2 separate regions of the Homo sapiens genome follow, and region 1 is linked to region 2. The links come from fine-mapping of genetic effects on gene expression. A gene starts in region 2. The other region holds a variant in brackets. All regions are shown on one strand. Distances are between the middles of the regions.

What was found. PIP is the estimated chance that this variant, and not a neighbour inherited with it, causes the effect. A credible set is the group of variants that fine-mapping cannot tell apart.
Region 1: its variant is the best candidate, but not a certain one, in a credible set for the expression of RAB40C in esophagus muscle (GTEx, PIP 0.78).

Annotation. Positions count from the first base shown.
Region 1 is chr16:615,021-620,215 of GRCh38, forward strand. It overlaps RAB40C (RAB40C, member RAS oncogene family), which reads left to right. Exons shown (of 6, transcript NM_021168.5): 2 at 2,188-2,248; 3 at 3,180-3,240. It overlaps LOC124903618 (a long non-coding RNA gene), which reads right to left and starts at 1,244. Exons shown (of 2, transcript XR_007064934.1): 1 at 1-1,244. The variant T/A (reference allele first, on the strand shown) is at 2,771.
Region 2 is chr16:587,932-593,126 of GRCh38, forward strand. RAB40C (RAB40C, member RAS oncogene family) reads left to right here and starts at 2,135. Exons shown (of 6, transcript NM_021168.5): 1 at 2,135-2,502. The coding sequence starts at 2,361. RefSeq lists enhancers at 456-655, 778-1,651 and silencers at 996-1,305, 1,626-1,685, 1,696-1,745, 1,816-1,935, 2,026-2,345.

The sequences.
Region 1 (5,195 bases), 27 kb after region 2:
TGTTCCTTCTTGTCTTGGAAACGAGGACCCGAGGGAGACCATCCGTCCATCCTAAAATTGGGACGTTTGGTTTTCTGTTGTTGAGTTGGAGTTATTTGTAGAGTCTAGAGATCAGTCTCTAGGAGACGTGTGATCTGCAGACATTTCCCTCCATCTCTGGGTTGCATTTTTCTGTCCATTGATGGTGTCCTTCGATGCATGAGAACAGCCTTTGATGTACATGTAGGGGTTGGTCAGGCAGAAGGACGGTGTGGGTGGAAGCGCTGATGCCTGAAGAAGGGCACCGTAGGCAGAGAGACCGCATGGCTGGCTTGCAGGGCTGGGCCCGCACGGAGAGACAGATGTGCACAGACACACACACAAGCCCACTGGGCAGGTGCACTCCGTGGGAGGGCGTCGCTTATGTTTAAAAAGTGCCCGTTTCCAAGCCCCTTGGAGAAAGTGTCATAAAAAGACAAAACGTGAATGGTGTTTCTAAGGTGGGGGAAGGGGCTGAGCCCTAAAGGTAGAAGCTTCTGGAAAGTTTCCAGAGGGCCCAGAGCCTGTTTAAGATGTCGTGCCTGCGTTAAGTGTCCAGAACTGTCTGCTCCTTTCAGTTTCTCTTGGACTGACCTTTTCCTATAAAACTGTAAGGAAATAAAAAGTAATGATGTGATGTGGGCCGGGCACGGTGGCTCACACCTGTAATCCCAGCACTTTGGGAGGCCAAGGCGGGCGAATCACCTGAGGTCAGGAATTTGTGACCAGCTTAGCCAACGTGGCAAAACCCCGTCTCTACTAAAATTATAAAAATTAGCCGGCTGTGGTGGTGGGCACCTGTAATCCCAGCTACTTGGGAGGCTGAGGCAGGAGAATCGCTTGAACCCGGGAGGTGGAGGTTGTAGTGACCCGAGATTGTGGCACTGCACTGCAGCCTGGGCGACAGAGTGAGACTCCATCTCAAAAAAGAAAAAAAGGCCGGGTGCAGTGGCTCACGCCTGTAATCCTAGCACTTTGGGAGGCTGAGGCGGGTGGATCATGAGGTCAGGAGATCGAGACCATCCTGGCTAACACGGTGAAACCCCACCTCTACTAAAAATACAAAAAATTATCCGGGCATGGTGGCGGGCGCCTGTAGTTCAGCTACTCAGCAGGCTGAGGCTAGATAATGGCGTGAACCCGGGAGACGGAGCTTGCAGTGAGCAGAGATCGCACCACTGCACTCCAGCCTGGGTGACTGAGCAAGACTCTGTCTCAAAAAAAAAAAAAAATACCAATGTGGCAGGCAGGCTGGTGGCTGTCTGAGGTCAGTCCAGAGTCCGGAGAAGCAGCATTTTATTTATTTATTTATTTATTTATTTATTTATTGAGTACTGTCACCCAGGCAGGAGTGCAGTGACATGATCTCGGCTCACTGCAACCTCCACCTCCCAGCTTCAAGTGATTCTCCTGCCTCAGCCTCCCGAGTAGCTGGGATTAAAGGTGCCCACCACCACACCTGGCTAATTTTTTGTATTTTTAGTAGAGACGGGGTTTCACTGTGTTGGTCAGGCTGCTCTCAAACTCCCGACCTCATGATCCGCCCGCCTCGGCCTCCCAAAGTGCTGGGATTACAGGCGTGAGCCACCGCGCCCGGCCAGAAGCAGCATTTTTAAACTTGTTTGGCCCTCCCTAACACCAACCTTGGCAGTTCCTGGGCTGCAGTAAGCCGAGACTTGGAAATACATTCGCCTTGGAGAATTCAACTTCAAAATGCATACGAAGTAGGTCAGGGTGGAAATAAAGGCACTGCCCTTTCTCCAGGCACGCTGGAGTCCACGCCCTGCCTTTGCCCAATGCCCTCTGAGGGAGAGGCCCTGTGCCTTGCACCCAGCGCGGGCCACAGGCGGAGGCCCCATTCCAGGCAAGCCGTGCCCATGGAGAGGCTGGCCTGCTAGGCTGTGGGGCCCGATGGCCTGACACTGTATGGACCACGCTCCTGCCCTGCCCTGCCCCGCCCTGCCCGTGGCCCGTGTGCAGAAGTGGGCAGGCCTGGGTTGCTGGGCCAGAGCCCCGAGATTTCCCCCTGCCCCACTGGCTGAGTGTGGGGGAGCTGCTTCTCCACTTCCGCGTGGGTCTTGGCCCTGGGAGGCCAGTGGCCGAGGCTGGTCTCGCGGGCGCTCGCTCCAGGAGTGGCGCGTCCCCTCAGCGCCCTGTGCTTCCTCGCAGGGATCGACTACAAGACCACCACCATCCTGCTGGACGGCCGGCGCGTGAAGCTGGAGCTCTGGTGAGTTGGGGCTGCGGCACTTCAGTTCCTGGGTGAGGACACAAATGCCGAAGGGAGAACAGAACCCTTAGAGAAACAGGAAGGCGTCCTGTTTGCATTTCACTTGGAAGAGCCACTTACACAGCCCCTGTTTAAACATAGAATGGATTTTACTCCAACAGGAAAAAGACAGTCTGGGACACTGTGTCCCTAGAGATCGCGGCTCCCCTCCTGCCCCGGAAAACCTGATTCCGTGGTGGCTGTGAGCCCCTTCCCTCCCCTTCTGTCGGCTTCACCTTAAAAAGCATTTCCCAGCGGGGTGTGGTGGCTCACGCCTGTCATCCCAGCACTTTGGGAGGCCGAGGCAGGAGGATCACCTGAGGTCAGGAGTCCAAGACAAGCCTGGCCAACATGGTGAAACGCCATCTCTACTAAAAATACAAAAATTAGCCAGGTGTGGTGGCGGGCGCCTGTAGTCCCAGCCACTCAGGAGGCTGAGGCAGTAGAATCACTTGAACCCGGGAGGCAGAAGTTGCAGTGAGC[T/A]GAGATTGCACCACTGCACTCCAGCCTGGGTGACAGAATGAGACTCCGTCTCAAAAAAGAAAAAAAAAAAAGCATTTCCCAGAACGTCAGCGTTGATGAGACGTGAATGTCCACAGGGTTGGGGTTCCCCAGCCTGGCAGGACAGTCTCCTGGAGCTCCCAGGCTCATGTGAGGAGCTTGCTCACTCCCCAGGTGGGCGGGGGCCCCTTCTGCTGCCTGCCTGGCTCAGCGGCACGGCGCCAGGCTGCTGTGACCTGTGCAGACAAAGCCGCTTAGCACAGCCTCATTGGCACCTGTCCTGGCCGCCCCGCTCCCCTCAGGACATCCAGGTGGGTCGGCAGAGGAGGGAAGGAGGTGAGCCTCTCACAGGGACCACAGTCCCGGCCCCTCCCCTCCCCGTATGTTTCAGGGACACGTCGGGCCAGGGCCGGTTCTGCACCATCTTCAGGTCCTACTCCAGGGGCGCTCAGGTAAGACCAGCACCGCTCTTTCCATTGCTTTTCAAAGGATGTTTCTCCTGATTCTTTCTGAATGTGAGTTGTTGTCCTGTCAAACTCCCAAGGACTTTCTTTCTTTATAAGGATATTCTCACATTGGTTTGTTTATTTGTTTGTTTTGAGACAGAGACTCACTCTGTCACCCAGGCTGGAGTACAGTGGCACAGTCTCGGCTCACTGCAGCCTCCCCCTCCCGGGTTCAAGCGATTCTCCTGCCTCAGCCTCCCCAGTAGCTGGGAGTACAGGCGCAGTGGGTGTACTTGGAGCTGTGTGTGTGCACAGGTGTAGTGGGTGCACTCAGGGCCATGTGTGTGTGCAGCCATGTGCACAGGTCTGGCGGGGGCACTGGGGCCATGTGTGCAGTGTGTGCGCAGGTGTGGTGTACTTGGAGCTGTGTGTGTGCACAGGTGTAGTGGGTGCACTCAGGGCCATGTGTGTGCAGGCATGTGCACAGGTCTGGCGGACGCACTGGGGCCATGTGTGCAGTGTGTGCAGGTGTGGTGTACTTGGAGCTGTGTGTGTGCACAGGTGTAGTGGGTGCACTCGGCCATGTGTATGTGCAGGCATGTGCACAGGTCTGGCGGGGGCACTGGGGCCATGTGTGCAGTGTGTGCTCAGGTGTGTACTTGGAGCTGTGTGTGTGCACAGGTGTAGTGGGTGCACTCAGGGCCATGTGTGTGCAGGCATTTGCACAGGTCTGGCGGACGCACTGGGGCCATGTGTGCAGTGTGTGCAGGTGTGGTGTACTTGGAGCTGTGTGTGTGCACAGGTGTAGTGGGTGCACTCGGCCATGTGTGTGTGCAGGCATGTGCACAGGTCTGGCGGGGGCACTGGGGCCATGTGTGCAGTGTGTGCTCAGGTGTGGTGTACTTGGAGCTGTGTGTGTGCACAGGTGTAGTGGGTGCACTCAGGGCCATGTGTGTGTGCAGGCATGTGCACAGGTCTGGCGGGGGCACTGGGGCCATGTGTGCAGTGTGTGTGCAGGTGTGGTGTACTTGGAGCTGTGTGTGTGCACAGGTGTAGTGGGTGCACTCAGGGCCATGTGTGTGTGCAGCCATGTGCACAGGTCTGGCGGGGGCACTGGGGCCATGTGTGCAGTGTGTGTGCAGGTATGGTGGGTGCGCTTGGCCACCCTCGTTTCTGTCTCCTCTGGGCCCCCAAGCACGCTTTTGTGCTGACTGGATCTGCTGGCGAATGTGAGGCCGGAAGGAGGGCAAGGACGTGAAGCCCATGTAAACAGACCTGTCATGGCCACTGTTGTTGCTGCTTCAGTGGGAGGGATTTGAGCGGGTCTGTCCTGTCTGTGATGCCCCTAAGAGTTCTGGAAGAGCCAGGAGAGCCCCTCCGGGGCCAGTTCGTGAGCCTGGAGCCCCCCATGTGGGCCCAGGGAGGCCGCCTGGGTCTGGGTCTGGATCCTTCTTGGGGGAAGGTTCAGGTCTGTGCCATGCAGCTTCTGGCTCAGGTGGGTCCGCTCTGGGCAGGAAGCTGCCCAGGTGCGAGGGGGATGGACACTGGAGCTTCGTCCCATGGCAAGCTCATTTCCTTCCATTTCTACACTGAAGTGTAGTCGGTGTTGGATCTGATGTCTTCTACCTGCTGGCGGTGGGTGGGAAGGACGCCAGGGCGGGCTGGGTCGCACCCTGTCCTGGGAGTTCCCTCGGAGATGTTGGCAGCTCCCTCATGGGAGCAGAAGGGCCTGCAGGCTCCGTGCCATCCCTGTGAGAACTGGAGCAACATGGCCGTGATTCGTGGAGCAGGCAGGTGGAAGACGGGCAGGCTCAAGGATGCATTCCATGGGCCCTGCCTGCTATTGAAAGAGGAGTTGGGGCTGGTGCGGTGGTTCACGCCTGTAATCCCAGCACTTTGGGAGGCCAAGGCAGACAGATCACGAGGTCAAGAGTTGGAGACCAACCTGACCAACATGGTGA
Region 2 (5,195 bases):
TAAGTAGCTGGGATTACAGGCACGTACCAACATGCCTGGCTCATTTTTGTATTTTCAGTGGAGAGGGGGTTATCACGATGTTGGCCAAGCTGGTCCTGACCTCAGGTGATCCACCCACCTCAGCCTCCCAAAGTGCTGGGATTACAGGCATGACCCACCGTGCCCGGCCTCAGAAAGCGTTTCTGATTTATGTTCTCAGGAAAGGAGGAGACGGCTGCTCACCACTATCCACCCCCCGCTTCCAGGCAGTCTCAGAAACCGAGGAGGAAACATCACATCTTTGGTGCTTCCCGTCCCTGGAGTGAGGGGCCTCAGGGACTTCACAGCCAGGGCTCAAGTCTGGGCACAATGACCTCTGAGCAGAAGAGGCTCTCCCTGACCCGCCAGGTTGTTTCCGGGTTAATGCCTGGGGAACTTGGCAAGGCGCCATCTCTACAAAAAATACAAAAGGTAGCCGGGCATGGTGGCGCCTGTAGTCCCAGCTACTCGGGAGGCTGAGGCTGGAGGATCGCTTGTGCCGGGGAGGTAGAGGCTGCAGTGAGCCGAGATCGCGCTACTGCACTGCAGCCTGGGCGACAAAGGGAGACCCTGTTTCAAAAAAGAAAAAACTGGTGCGTCGATGTGGTCGCCGCTTAGTCAGGCCATGTCTTCAGCTCTGGGGGACGGGAGGTCACTGGAGGTGTGGGGCTGCCCGTCCTGGCGTCCCTCTGTGTAAGCAGCACCTGCTCCCGGAGGCACAGCCCTGGTCGGGGCCCCTCTGGAGGAGGGTTCTTGCCGGGCTCTGCTCCTCGCCGGCGGGGCAGACGTGACGGGCTCCGCACCCGGTCTGGAGAGGGCTGCGCTGGGTCGGCGCTGACGTTACTGCTTTTACTTACGACTGTAACAGCGCTACTGAACGCAGAGCACGTATCACAAAGCTCACCCGTTCCGAGTGAGTAACTTCACCGAGAGAGGCAGGACCATCCCCACGACGGTAGGACCTTCTCGTCACCCCAGAAAGAACCACGTGCCCACTCAACCCCCGACCCCACGCCGGGGCCCGCGGACGCAGCCGCCTCGCTCGCCCACGCACCTGCGGCAGCCGGGCCCGGCAGGGACGAGGGCTCGGCGGCGCCCCCGGGAAGAGCGCGGTCCGGGCCCTGGGTCCCCGTCCAGGAGGCGCCGCTGCCGCAGTGAGCACGTCGGGCCGGGTCTTGAGCTCGCGCCGGCCGCGCTCCCCGCGTCCCGAGCTGTGGCGGCCGCGTCCCCGGGCGGAAGGCTCACGCTCGGTGACGCCGCGCTGTCCCAGAACCTCAGCGACTTTGCAGACTCACTGGTGACCCAACGGTGCGCCCCGCCGCCGCCGGGCGGAAGTCCCGCCCCTGCCCCGGAGAGGAAGTTCCGCCTCATCGAGCGCCGATTGGCCGCACCGCCTTAGAGAGGACGCGCCCGGGGCCACCCCGCCGCTCCCTCCGAGGGTTCTGCGGAAGCAGGCGGCACAGCCTGCGAGGGGCTTTCGTTTCCCGGACTCAGCCGCATCGCCTCGGCTCGGGCGCGCCTGCATCCTGCCGCCCGTCCGCGCGTTGAAGGGGCGGATACAAACAACGTGGACTTCCGAGCCCCTGATTGGCGAGCGTGTAGGAAAGGGGCGGGGTTAGCAGAGCCGTGATGGACATGCAAGCGACCCAATGGCGCCGGCGACGGGGCGGGCGAGGACAACGGCGTTGTGGGCCGGGGGCGGGGCGGCCGGCGGCTCTGGGATTTCTCTGGGAGGCAGCCGCAGGGAAGGGAATGATCTTGGTGAACTTATAATCGAACCAATGGTTCCGGGAAAGCAGGAGGCGAGTGGCCAATGGCGACGGCGATGAGGCAGGCGTCCGCTGTCTCCGCAACGCCGTGTGGGAAAGGCGGGGGAGGGGCGGTCATGACAGACGTGCAGACAGGCCAATGGCTGAGGGAAGGAGGGCGGCGGGCGACCTCTGGTGACTACGGGAAGGCAGGGCGGGGTGGTGAAGAGGCGGTGCGACCGGAGGTCTGGCGGCGCCGTGTGGAACGCCGTGAGGGCGGGGAAGTCGTGACGGACGGGCGGGTGGGCCAATGGGCTCGGGAGGGCGGGCGAAGGGTGGCCAATGGCGGCGGCGCGGCCGGGGGTGGGGCGGCGCGGCGGCCCTGGTGGTGCGGGAAGCGGCGGGGCGGCGGCGAGGCTGAGGTGCGCCCGGGCGCGGGCGGGGCGGGGCCGGCGCTGGGCTTCGGGCGCGCCCACTCGGCCGCCGTGGGGCGGACGCAACGGGCGCAGGTGCGGGGCGCGGGCTCTCTCACGCCGCGGCCTCACCCGGCGGTGCTTCGGCAGGCGGCCGGCGCGGGGCGCAGGCGGCGCGGCCATGGGCTCGCAGGGCAGTCCGGTGAAGAGCTACGACTACCTGCTCAAGTTCCTGCTGGTGGGCGACAGCGACGTGGGCAAGGGCGAGATCCTGGAGAGCCTGCAGGACGGCGCGGCAGAGTCCCCGTACGCCTACAGTAACGGTAAGGCCCGGCCCGCGGCGCGCGCTGCTACGCGGGGCCCGAGCCCGGCGAGCTGGGCACGGAGCTCGCCCTCGGCCCGGCCCTTCCAAGCGCCGCCGAACGTTCCCAGGAACGCCTTTGCCTGGCTTCCAGACTCGGTAGCTCGGTGGCTGCGGGGTGCCCGTGCTCCAGTCCCGAGGTGACGCCGGGGGGCAGGAGGACGGACCAGAGGGACGCGCCCAGCGGGGACGGTGCCATGGACCCGGGGTCTGGGGGACGGTGTCACGGGTCCGGGATCTCAGGGGAAGGTGTCATGGGTCCGGGATCTGGAGCCCAGGGGAAGGTGTCATGGGTCCTAGAGAAGGTGTCATGGGCCTGGGGAAGGTGTCATGGGTCTAGGATCATCTGGGGTCCGAGGGAAGGTGTCATGGGCTCGGGGGAAGGTGTCGTGGGCCGGAGGGAAGGTGTCATGGGTGCAGGATCTGGGGTCTGGGAGAAGGTGTCATAGGTCCGAGGGAAGGTGTCATGGGTCCAGGATCTGGGGTCCGGGGAAAGATGTCATGGTCCCGGTAGAAGGCGTCATGGGCCAAAAGGAAGGTGTCATGGGTCTAGGATCATCTGGGGTCCGAGGAAAGGTGTCATAGATCTGGGGGAAGGCATCATGGTCCTAAGGGAAGCTGTCATGGGTCTGGGATCATCTGGGGTCCGAGGGAAGGTGTCATAGATCTGGGGAAAGGTGTCATGGGTCTGGGATCTCAGGGGAAGGTGTCATGGGCCTAAGGGAAGGTGTCATGGTCTGGGATCTCAGGGGAAGGTGTCATGGGTCTAGGATCATCTGGGGTCTGAGGGAAGGTGTCATAGATCTGGGGGAAGGCATCATGGTCCTAAGGGAAGGTGTCATGGGTCTGGGATCATCTGGGGTCCGAGGGAAGGTGTTATAGATCTGGGGAAAGGTGTCATGGGCCCGGGGAAGGTGTCACGGACCCAGGTCTGGTGGCAGGTGCTGCTGGGCTGCTCTTGGGACCCTGTCTCGAGCGTGCACAGATGACAGGTCCTTATAGGCACGCTGTTCCCCTGAGGTATTTGCTTACTGCTGAGGGAGTCAACGCTTTGTGCTAGAAGAAAATACCTCTGTAATGAGTTACTGAACATTTGTTTTGTTTTGTTTTCTTTTCTTTTCTTTCTTTTTTTTTTTTTTGAGACGGAGTCTCACTCTGTCGCCAGGCTGGAGTGCAGTGGCACAATTTCAGCTCACTGCAACCTCCGCCTCCTGGGTTCAAGCGATTCCCCTGTCTCAGCCTCCCGAGTAGCTGGGACTACAGGTGTATGCCACCACGCCCGGCTAATTTTGTTGTGTGTATTTTAGTAGAGACGGGGTTTCAGCATGTCGGCCAGGATGGTCTCAATCTCCTGACCTCATGATCTGCCCACCTCGGCCTCCCAAAGTGCTGGGATTACAGACGTGAGCCACTGCGCCTGGCCTGAACGTTTGTTTTTAACTTCCAGTGGCATGGCTAAAATACACTAGATAGGTGGCATCACTGGGGCTTGCCTGCCTGAGCATGCCTCTTAATTTAGGTGGTTAACAGAGTGAGTGAGACGGTGTGGTCCTCATCCCCTCTCATGGGGGCCTGGACCCAGCCGAATGGGATGTGGCCCCAGATGAACTGGGAGCAGTCAGCATCCAGCCTCCCCAGAGTCCATCTGCGCTTCAGGGAATGCCATCTACGCTGGCGAACTTACCTCTCCTGGTCCCTGCCCTCTCCCCTTGCTTTGTTTCTTGGGCTCTTGTCCGTCCTGTCTGACTGCCCTGAGCGTCTGCTATTTGCTGAATTGTCTGCCTTTGGCTGCTGAGAGTGTGGGCGCAGCATCCCCCACTCTCTCAACTCGGGGGTTGGCAGAGCGTGGGATTACCTGGACTGAGGCTGAGCGCGCTTCCTCCTGGCATGGCTTCAGCAGTGGGCAGCAGCACCGGGGGCTCTGGAAGCTTGTGCTCCTGGCTTCAGCCTGGAGGAGGGGTTGGAAAGGGCCAGGGAGGAAGAGCTCTGTGTCCATTTTGAGGTGGGGGAAGTGTAAGGCCCACTGGGGCATTGGGGGCTCACACGTTAGGCCCCTGCACCTGCCGCCTCCTGGTCCTGCACTTGACAGTGACTGCCCCAGAATTGGTAACTCCTGACTCAGGTGGTGGGCGGCCAAGTTGATTGTGAAGGTGGCGTTGCCTTCTAAAGCTTGGCTCCAGGGGCGCTGCGCACTCCCAGGAGGCTGGCGGCGTGCGTGTTTGTGCATGTTCAGAAGAGCACGGGAAGGATTGGGTTTCATCAATCGGTGTTTTCCCAGGACATGAAGGCGTGCTTCTGAGGGCCGGCTCAGCCATGCTGGCCAGCTCGCCTACCCAACTGCACCACACAGCCAGGAGCTGGAGAGACAGGACCCTCCTTCCTCCCTGTCCCCTTCGTCGGGCTGTGGGGCATTGCCACACTTCCTCTGACATGCTCACTGAAGTGGGGCCAGTATTGTGTAAGACGTGGAGACCTGCCTGCTTGCAGAGACTTCAGAGGCTCACAGTGGCTTGGACCAGAGGCAGAGAGGAGAGTCCACTCTTAGAAAGACACCACGTGCTCTCAGGGCCCGGGGCACACTTCCAGGTCCCCGCAGGAGTCCTGTGGCCTCGAGCAGAGAAGGAAGCGCCTCTGGGCTGTGGAACGCGCTTTCTG